2 separate regions of the Homo sapiens genome follow, and region 1 is linked to region 2. Evidence: fine-mapped expression QTL. A gene starts in region 2. The other region holds a variant in brackets. All regions are shown on one strand. Distances are between the middles of the regions. Region 1 has its middle 38 kb from the start of SMAD5. Region 2 holds the start of SMAD5 (SMAD family member 5).

What was found. PIP is the estimated chance that this variant, and not a neighbour inherited with it, causes the effect.
Region 1: its variant is the best candidate, but not a certain one, in a credible set for the expression of SMAD5 in tibial artery (GTEx, PIP 0.76).

Annotation. Positions count from the first base shown.
Region 1 is chr5:136,091,961-136,097,340 of GRCh38, reverse strand. No RefSeq gene overlaps it. Among named protein-coding and RNA genes, the nearest start is that of SMAD5, 38 kb to the left of the region's middle. The variant C/T (reference allele first, on the strand shown) is at 2,362.
Region 2 is chr5:136,129,712-136,135,091 of GRCh38, reverse strand. It overlaps SMAD5 (SMAD family member 5), which reads right to left and starts at 2,247. Exons shown (of 8, transcript NM_005903.7): 1 at 2,130-2,247. It overlaps SMAD5-AS1 (SMAD5 antisense RNA 1), which reads left to right and starts at 202. Exons shown (of 2, transcript NR_026763.1): 1 at 202-1,742; 2 at 5,311-5,380. RefSeq lists a silencer at 1,894-2,533 and enhancers at 2,844-2,893, 2,924-2,983.

The sequences.
Region 1 (5,380 bases), 38 kb after region 2:
CTTCCCTACCAGGGCTCAGACACAGGTGTCATGGTCCCCTTTCTTCCCAAGTTGCTACAGTCATGACCTTGCTTTAGGATATTTTGTTCTATTCCAGAGCCCAACAAAGTCAGCATTTAACTAATGAGCACCATACTACTGGGAATATAAAAGACCCCATTGTTTCCCGCCATTTATGGAGGAACATGGCTTCCTGAGGTAAATTAATTTGCGGAAGGAGTTAGAATAACCAATAGCTTTACAATGAGCGATTCCTTACGCCAGTCATGCACAGGGTGGGGCTTAGGAAATTATTTCAGCGCATGTTTTTCTTCAACTCAAGGCTTTTATGAAGAAAAACATTTCTTAAAGCTGTTATTAAGGTATTCAAGCTAGGAACTCAGACGATTCTAAAACACTCCTCTATATTCTTCCTCATCTTCTTGGAATGTCTTTGGAAGAGAGAATTGTTAGGGTCCTGGAAAAAGAAAACCAACAGATCAGGTGGTTGAATATGGCTTCCTGGTGGGGCAGACAGTTCAAAGGATACCTTGAGGCATCTGGCAGTGCACAAGAAAGGGCAAAGCTTCCAGAGAGTAGCAAGTCACTGAAGACAGAATTCTGTTATAGAGAAAAACTGTGTGTGTGTGTGTGTGTGTTTGTGAAGCTTTTTTAATGAACTAGTTTGTTTTTGTTTTTGAGACAGTCTCACTCTGCCACCCAGGCTGGAGTGCAGTGGCGCGATCTCAGCTCACTGCAGCCTTGGCCTCCTGGGTTCAAGCCATTCTCCTGCTGCAGCCTCCTGAGCAGCTGAGATTACAGACACGCACCAGCATGCGCGGCTAATTTTTGTGCTTTTGGTAGAGACAGGGTTTCGCAATGATGGCCAGGCTGGTCTCAAACTCCTGACCTCGAGTGATCCACCCGCCTTGGCCTCCCTCCCAAAGTGCTGGGATTACAGGGGTTAGCCACTGCACCTGGCCTGAACTAGTATGTTTTTTGTATTATGAAAGTGATTCATCCTCAGGGTAAAATTCAAATAGTGCGGAAGGCACAAGGTGATTTAAGTTTTATTACAGTCAGAAAATCTATCTCTCTACCACTGCCCCCCAACTACACACACACACACACACAGACACACACACACATACATACACATATTCAATGTTTATCTTCAAATTAGGTCATTTATGAAAAAATGGAGAAAAATGCTTCTATAAGATATTCACACTGTTAACTGTAAGCAGTTTTCAAAAGTTACCATCAAGCTTACTCTCCTTTTCTTTGAATACTTTTGGAAGAGACACAATTTTCCAAACTGTGTTTGCCAAAACACAGTTCAGGCAATAGAATAGATGAAATTTTTACAAACAGGACAGTGAAAGCCTGGCACATAGTAGACACTCAGGAAATATGTATTGAAATATCTGTTGGCGAAATAAAACTATAATGCTCCTTTGCGATATGGTTTTCTCTCTTAACAATATATTTTGGGCCTCATTCCCTATTAGTTACTAGAAATCGGTAGCATCATTGTTAATCGCTGCTTTGTATTACCTTGTAGGGGTGCACTGTAATTTATTTAACTTCATTGATGGGCATTTAGGTGCATCCAATTTATTTTCTGTCACGACCAAAGCCACAAAGAACATCATTTTGTGTTACTTTTGCACATGAGTGTAAGTCCTTTTGTAGGATAAACAACTACGAGGGAAAAGACTGGGTCAAAGGGCTTACGCAGGGTAGAATTTCAGGATAATCCACTTCTTCAAAAACTTTAAGTGGGAAGTGAGAATAAGATCAGGAACTCTTCTGCCTTGTCCTTTTATTCCAAGTACTCTTGACTACTCAACAGGGCTTCACCAACTGTGTTAGTTTGAGCAAATCTAAGAGCAGACCCTAAGGCAAGTATTCAAGTGCCAGTAGCTTAGTTGGCAGGAGATCTGCAGGCCTACAAGTAGGGGTGTGCAGAAGTGAGACAGGTAAGAAAGGGTGTCTTATCATGCCACTTCTCACTGTGGACAGCTGGGACTAATCTTGCTGGGAAACAATGTAGTACACACCCCAGAGTTACCCCAGCTGTGGGACACGGAAGCTATGGTATTCATTCATCATGGCCATATCGAATTGTTGGATGAGAACTGAATCAAGGGGCATCAGGTATCTGGCTCTTCCTGCTTGTCCCGGGGAGAGGTCAAGTGTGCTTCTGCAGCTGGCAGAGAGCTGCAGGTGTTGGAAAGAATCACCTCTGCTGGTAGGGGTGAGTGCAGAGAGGATGAGCAGGGCAGCGACAACCTCTGCCTCGTCATCTTTTGGGATGTATCACAATCTCCAGCAGAATCGAAGGCTGCTACTTAGTGATAGAAATCAGAAGTCTACTGA[C/T]GTTTGCCTAGATAACACATGCCAATTTTTAGCTGCCCAGAATATAAAACCCCCTTCTTTGGGGGAGACTTCTTTATTCTGCATGTCTTTGAGAGAGACTGAGCCCCCTTGCCACTGAGAAAGCCCAAATGGGGAATAATTATACTCTGCCTGCTGCATATGAGGCCAGGCAGTGGCACAAAGATTCAGGTACAGTCAGTGACTATTTATGGTGGCAGTAGCCAAGTTCAAAGTCCAGCAGCAGCACGGTGAGTGTCTGGGAACAGCAGAACAGGCAACATGTCATAATCAGACTGTTTTCATAGTGGAGTTCCCTACCATCCCACCTCCATTAGTTCCTACCCATTTTCTAAGCCTGCTTCTCTAATTTGTCCAGCCCTTCTTGGAGCTTCCCAATAACTATCAAATAAAATAACAGAGTTTATATTGTTTGCAATTAAGCAGTTTAACTATTATACTGAATCATTTCTCCTCCCCCAAAACCATTTTCTCACAGACATATCCATGCAAACAAATGATGAAATATGACATTTCATTAGAACATTAGACACCAGACTGTTGGGCAATGATTCCGGACATCAGGGGGACTCTCCATCTGTGACAGCCTAGATAAAGTCCAAAGGCTGATTGTTTGGGCTGCAGGGAGAAAATGGGGACATAAATGAGATAATGGGGAGTTTCCAACTGATCTCAGTGGAGGCAACCACTTGTAAGATATCTCTTTTTCTAATAAAGAGAGAAGCTGCCCCATGAGCCACCCAATCGTAGGCACTGCTTTCTGAGTGCTTACTAGGCACTGGAGAAAAAAACTGGATCCCCAAAAAAGAACAAAAATCAGGCCTGTATTAGACTTTTCCTCAACGATACTAAATAGCAGGAGATAATTTAACAGGAGAGGAAACTCTCAATGTTTTGGAGAAAAAAAGTTCACAGGCTATTTTAAGGAGGGAAGCCATGTCCCCAACAGGCACTGATTACACCTATGGAGGCAGTTCTAATGGAAGAACAACAAGAGGTCTCTAAAATGGAATATTTTAAGGAAGTTATGATGTAAAAACTGCAATTTTGTTTAATTAACCAAGGAACAGGAAATGAACAATTACTGATTAAAATGGAATTTGTGTTCTGGAAAATCAAATAAAGGAAACATCTCTCACCCACACACTTACAAAAGGCAAAAAATATCCACAACAACCAAAAGCAAATACACAAATAAATGCAAATAATGAGTACAAGATAAGATTCATAATAAGTAGGTCTGGGAGGTCTGATAAATAAATAACAGGAGATCCTTAAGGCAAAAGGCACAGAAGAAGAAAAATATTAAAGAAACAATGCAAGATAACTTTAAATGTAGAAAAATTTACATTTTAAGAACTAAATGGCTGCAAATCAAATTCCAAACTGCACAAAAAGCCCCAAACTCGTCATCTCCTGGTGAAATTTCTTAAATCTGAGATTAAAGAGAAAGTTCAACACTTTTCCAGGTGAAGAGAAAGTTTACTTATGAAGGAAAATGAATCAGATTGGTACGAAACTTCTCATCAACAACAGTGAAAATTAGAAGACAGTGAAACAATGATACCAGACATCCAGAAAAGAGAACTATATTCCAAGAATTGTATGTCCAGCCAAGTTATCATTCTTATGTAAAAACCATGTTTCTCGCTGTACCAGGACTTAGAAAGTACACTAGTGTTTTCTAGGTAAAAAGTACTAAGTACTCTAGGTGGGTTAAATTTAAATTACAAAATGAAGCATGCAAATTAAAGTAAGACGAGGAGTTAAAAAACATTTGGGAACATGAACACTGTAAGGTGTATGATTAAATCTCAAACCAATGATGATAATGTGACTGGGGATAGTGGTAATAGTCATTAAGTATTAAGAAAGATAGGAGGGAGTGAAAGCTTTTGAATGATGTTTACATAGAGGAGTGCCAACAAAAGTTTCATTTAGGACATTACTGATTACAGGAATATAGGTTTAAGCTTCTTTGGAAAAATTAAATATTAATACTATTGGAATTAAATTCTCCTACCAAATGACTACTTTAAAAAAAGGAACTATTTGAGACCAGCCTGGCCAACATGGTGAAACCCTGTCTCTACTAAAAATACAAAAATTAGCCCAGGCATGGTTGTGCACGCCTGTAATCCCAGCTACTCAGGAGTGTGAGGCAGGAAAATTGCTTGAACTTGGGAGGTGGAGGTTGTAGTGAGCCAAGATTGTGCCACTGCACTCCAGCCTGGGCACCAGAGTGAGACTCCATCTCAAAAAAGAAAAAAAAAAAAGGAATAAACCAAGAAAATATGTATATGTCTGTGTGTATGTGTGTGTGTGTATGTGCGTGTGTATAACTGATAGGATGTACAGAAAAATATTAACAAGAAATGGTAGAATTATGGGTAATTTATTTCTTCTTTTTTACTTATAAAAATAATAGAACAGGCCGGGCGCGGTGGCTCAAGCCTGTAATCCCAGCACTTTGGGAGGCTGAGGCGGGTGGATCACTTGAGATCACGAGTTTGAGACCAGCCTGGCCAACATGGTGAAACCCTGTCTCTACTAAAAATACAAAAATTAGCCCAGGCAACCTGTAATCCAAGCTACTTGGGAGGCTGAGGCAGGAGGATTGCTTGAACCTGGGAGGTGGAGGTTGTAGTGAGCTGAGATTGCACCACTGCACTCCAGCCTGGGCACCAGAGGTAGACTCCATCTCAGAAAAAAACAAAAGGAACAAACCAATAAAATATGTGTATGTCTGTGTGTGTGTGTGTGTGTGTGTGTGTATAACTGATAGGATGTAGAGAAAAATATTAACAATAAATGGTAGAATTATGGGTAATTTATTTCTTTTTTTTACTTATAAAAATAATAGAACAGGCCGGGCACAGTGGCTCAAGCCTGTAATCCCAGCACTTTGGGAGGCTGAGGCGGGTGGGATCACTTGAGATCACGAGTTTGAGACCAGCCTGGCCAACACGGTGAAACCCCATCTCTACTAAAAATACAAAAA
Region 2 (5,380 bases):
TGTGGCGCCTACCACAGTGAACCAGACACGCAGATAATACTACCAGATCTGTACAGAACCTACGAAAATATTTTATTCTTTTTTTCCAGTTTGCTGCTCTCTTCCTCCTTTTAACTAGACCATATCATGTGGATGCCTTTAAAACCTGAGAGTAAAGTCAGTTGAGAAGGTTAATCTAACTTTTCTTGCTTATTTCAGCTATGATCTGAAAGGAATGGAAGCACAAAATGATGAATAAGGTATTTTTAACAAAGATACATGGGTAAATTAACAGCAGTAATGTAAAAAAGACTGAGGGAGCAACAATGTGGAAAGGGAAGGAAAGGAAGCTGTATAGGAACAATCACACAAATAATCATCAAAATTAAACTTTATAAATCTAAACATAGTATCTACAACCTTTATGAAGGTTAAGTTTTGTTAAATTGTCTAAGTTTTGCATTTTTACAATTTTCACTGTAGAGAAAAAAATATTAATAGTTACCAAAGGAATAAAAGACTAAAATAATTTGTTATACATCTGCAAATAGCTCCTTAAATTTGGAACACTAATTTCATAATGATATTTGGATCCATAAATGTGAAACTGTCACACTGAATGTAGGTACTGTTTTCCCCACAATGGATACTACTGCATTGGCATCTAGCAGAAATTGTAAGCTATTTGGAATGTTACTAAACCTACTGGGACTAAGGTTTTCAATCTTTTGTCTTTCAAATTAAAATTAAAAACTAATTCACTCTGGGCAATTCAGGTACTCTAAGGAAATTCAAGTACTCTAGTTTTAAATACGAATTTTCAAAAACGCAACCCAAGTACCCTTTCCTCTCAACTTCTGTGAGGCCAAGCCACGACCTCCACCTATTCAATCTTTGCTGCTAGATAACAACCCTTTTGGTAGTGCTAGGCAACAGGCATGATGTGACAAACCTAGACATCAAAACTTTTCCACAGAAAGATAAGGTAAACAAGATATACTTAGCGCCACACCCATTTAAATGCACAAGCAACCAAAATTGCTCCCTCCCCCCGCAACACCCCCCCCCCCCCCCCAAAGCTCCAGCTGGTCAGGAAACATTGTCTTTACAATCAAGATAAACATCTGGCTCAGGGTGTTCAGCCATTCCTCACCTACAGGCTTGCCTAAGCCCCATTCTCCAATGCCATCACCACCAGAACCGGAACATTCTGTTGGGAAGCCGGCAAACGTCCAAATACCCCAAGTATCCTCGCCCGAGTTCTGCAACCAAAAATCTGTTTTGGCTACTGAGCATGCTCAGACTTAAGACGGGCGCGCCACATGGGAGTTTTCAAAGCTTAGGCTCCAAACTCCACGTAGTAACAGCAGCTGAAAGGAGGAGAGGGGAAAAGGGGAGGGGAAGAGACTGGAATATTAATTTGAGCCCTGATATTGAAGTATAGGACCCGGCCAGCGGCTGAATATGGTGAAGGCAAAAAGACGCTGCTTTGGCATTCTCTTTGCAGCACAGAGAAGTTTACATGAAGTAGAAGAAATCCTTGCAGTGGTGAAAACTGACATGGCAAGTGGCAGAAACCAGGTCTAACTACCAGCTGATTGCAGTAGCCGGTCACAACTGCCCAGAGTGTAATTCCCACCGATAAGCGCGGATCCTTATCTTTGAAACACAAAGCGACGGCGGCACGGATTCATCAAGCCATTGGACAGCTTCGCAGTGCAGCAGCCCAGGCTGCCCGGCCGAGCACCGCAGTCCTATCAAGGGTGTGTATCCAGGGTGGTACATCCGATGAGTTAGGAAAGCAAACCGCTCCCCAGGACAGCGCGGGGTCAGGGGGTCCCCTCCAGGGCGTCCCAGACGCCTCCCTCCAAAGTCTGGGCGGTAACAGCGGGGCTGGGACGAGGGCCAGCCCCGGCCCCGCCTCAGGACGCCCCGGGCAGCCAGCGAGGCCTCCGCAGCCGCTGGGCCGCACCGTGTCCGCCAGCCGGGACCCCGGCAGGCCAGGACTCGGCCTACCTCCCGCCCGACAGGCCCTGGGTCGTTTCCGCTCCGTCCGCGGCCGAACGCCCCCGCCTCGGCCCGAGTCCGCCGGGGCAGAGCCTGCAGCCCCCAGTTCCCCTCGCCCGCGCGCGCCGGGGACCCTCACTCACTCGCGAGCCGGCTAGGCGCGCTCTCCCGACGCCGTCGCTGCGCTTCTCCTCGCTGCAACTTTATTAGCAGCTCGGCCGCGGGACACGCGCACGGCGCCCGCTCGCCCAGGACCCGGATGAGGGAGGGAGGGAGAGGGAGCCCGGGAGGACGCCCGCTGGGGTCGGCGCATGCGCGCCAGAGGCGGAGTGACCGCTGCGGGACCGAGGGAGGGGTGTCTTGCCCGGGCGGCTGAAAGAAGCCTCCGCGCCGGGCTCCGCGCCGGCCAACGCCGACTTCCGATCAGCTGGAGGCCTTCGCGTCGATGGCCAGGCCTGGGAATGGGAATCAGATAGCTCCCACCACCACCACAGTAGGCGCTAGAAGCTTCCACTAACCAAATCAGTATACATTGTAATAAAATTAAGTAATTGTCCTTGACACAGACAACTGGAGGTTTTCTGTCACATACAAAGTGTAAACAAAAACATCTTCAGATACGACTTAGCTACTTTTATTGATCTGTAATACAAATCTGAATGAAGAGTCTTCTTTCTGTGCAAAGTAGCTTCAAAACATGTTTCTGAGCATCTTACAGCTTCTTACTAGATGCAGCACTAAAACCCCTCCCACGGGGCAATCCTGGAACCCTTGAGGGCCTGTGGAAATGGAGCGAGTGCCCACCCTGGAGTTCCAGGAGTGGGACTGCCCATACACTGGATCGCAACCCCAGTTGTTCAAGACACATAGCCTCTCCACCTCCTTGTGGGGAGGGAGATCCCGTGGGGACCCAGCCCCTGGACAGGCGGGGCCACTGAGTTGCAGAGACACCATCCATAGGCTTATATACACCACCCCATCTCCTGGACTCTCTTTTCTAAGTAATTGGAGCTCTTCTCGATGCTTTTTCCTCCAAATTTCCAAAACCGTCAGTATTTCCTAGAATATAATATTGGTACCACATAGGGTACCCGATTTGAATAGTACTAGTAAGAAAAAGCTTTTGAATAATTTTGTTTTTATTTGAAAAGGTCAATACTGGCTCTCCAATGTTCTATTATAGGTTTTCTTTTTAAAATAAGTAAAAATCAAAATCGGGGTCATTTTGGAATGCTCTTTGACACCCTAATCCAATCCATCAGAAATTCTACTGACTCTTTCTTCAAAATTTATCCTAAATCTGACCATTTCTCACACCTCAATTGCCACCTCCATGGCCCGAGCCAGGGTCATCTCATCTGACACACAAATGGCGCAGCCACTATTTTGCTCCAGGCTCTAGAAGTTTATTTCTGTGGAGAAGAAACTAAATAAATGTCCAGAAGTCTCTGCATTAGGGGTGGCCATCTGAAATGGTGACAGAGGGCTAGTAAAGGAGTGAAGGGGAAGTGGGGGAAGAGACCAGAGAGTGAGTGTCTAGTTCCAGAGACCAAAGGGGTCACTGCTATTTCATTCCAGCCAACTGTTACCATAGGGAAATGTGGGAATAAGGACCCAGTGTTGGCAGATATTCTGATTTTTCAAGCAAAGCTGGAAATTTAGATTTTTATGTGAAAATCTCAATTATATCTGTTTAGCAACTTCTTTCTATTTTTCTCTCTCTTTGCCTGTCTCCTGCCCGCCCCCCACCCCGCTCCCTTCCTCTCACTCTGTTAGACATTCTGGAGGCCAACTACATGCAAGCCAAACAAAACAAATCCATGGTCCCGATTTAGCCTACTGGCCACCAGTTTGCAATTTCAGGTCTCCATCTTAAACTTCTTTACTACATCATAAACTTTGAGAAAGTAAAGTCTGTGTACTTTAACTCTTTGTCACACTCACTGATTATTTGTTGTTAATTCAGAAGTTTCCAGCCCTTGGAAGGCAAATATTTCTGGAGCCTGCATGGGTTTACAACTCCCAGAAGTGCATATAATCCTGCCTTGGAGGATACGTTTTTTTTTTTTCCAGAACTGATGTTTGCAGAGTGCTTTGTTGAACATTATAGGACATAACAATTTGGTTTAAATATTTTGTATAGTAGAGATACTCCTCACTTCAAACAGCCAATAAAATCCTTCCCAAAACAAATTATTTGCTGTTTTGCAGTCACTGTACATACGTCAGAAGAATTTGTGATTACAAGATTCCTTTTCATAATCACATATGTAATCTCATAGCCAACAGTTTTGCTTCCTAAGTTATGTGTCCACATACTGATCAAATCAGCCAGCAACTCCAGCCTCTCCAACTTGCTATTTGAGCTCAGTTTAGGTCTAAAGTTGGAAGAGATAACATAGAAGAGAGGAATGGAGATTTTAGTACCACACCAGCAGCCTTCCGAAGGTCTAAGAAATTACCTAGACCTCAAAGACTATGGAAAATCAGAGGGATCACTAAATATCTATACAGTCAAAAACATTATAAAACAGCAAATGAACAGGAATCCCAGAACCATAAGAATGAAGTAAGGAAGTCCCTGTTTTTGGCAATCAAATGGGATCTAAGAACAAATGTAGAACAGGATGATCTGAACAGATAGACATAGTCAGTGGGGCATCAAAATAGACAAACTGCTTTTTTCATTTAGCCATTCACCTGATCAAGAAGACCAGATAAAAGCAACTCCAATACTCAATTTTACTTTACTTGTAGAGAAACCTATTTCTGGACAATTTAGTCCTATAATTCTCAACCAGGGGTGACTGCACCCCCAGGAAACATTTGGCAATGTTTAAAGATGTTCTCGGTTGTCACAACTAGGAGGGCGGTGCTACTAGCATCTAGGCGTTGCAGGTCAGAGACACTGCTGAACATGCTACAATGCACAGAACAGCCTCCTTCTACCAAAAATTAGTCAACCCAAAATATCAGTTGTGCTGTGGTTGAGAAACCCTGATTTAAATCCCAAATAGTTTTTCTTGGGTTGGGTTGATGTTTACAGAAGAAATGATCCTTTCCTTTGAATTTTTTCAATAATCATTTATATTATCAATTTCATGTAGAGAATTAGCCTAAATGTTTAGCCCATGACCTACTCCCTCCTTGAGTTTTTCAGGTCTAAGAAGGAGGCAACTTTCAGGAAAGGTGAGACAATATATGGAAGATGAAGAACTGGAATAATTTAGAAACATTTCTGTATTTTTTAATTTTAAAATGTCTAGTAATTGAGGCAAATTGTTTTTGGTTTGAAAATCATTAATAAATATCTTAATTTTGTAGTTTGCTGTAGCTCAGAAGGCTCTGCCTACATGACTACTGCATACCCTACTGGGAGAATTGGAAGAATGTG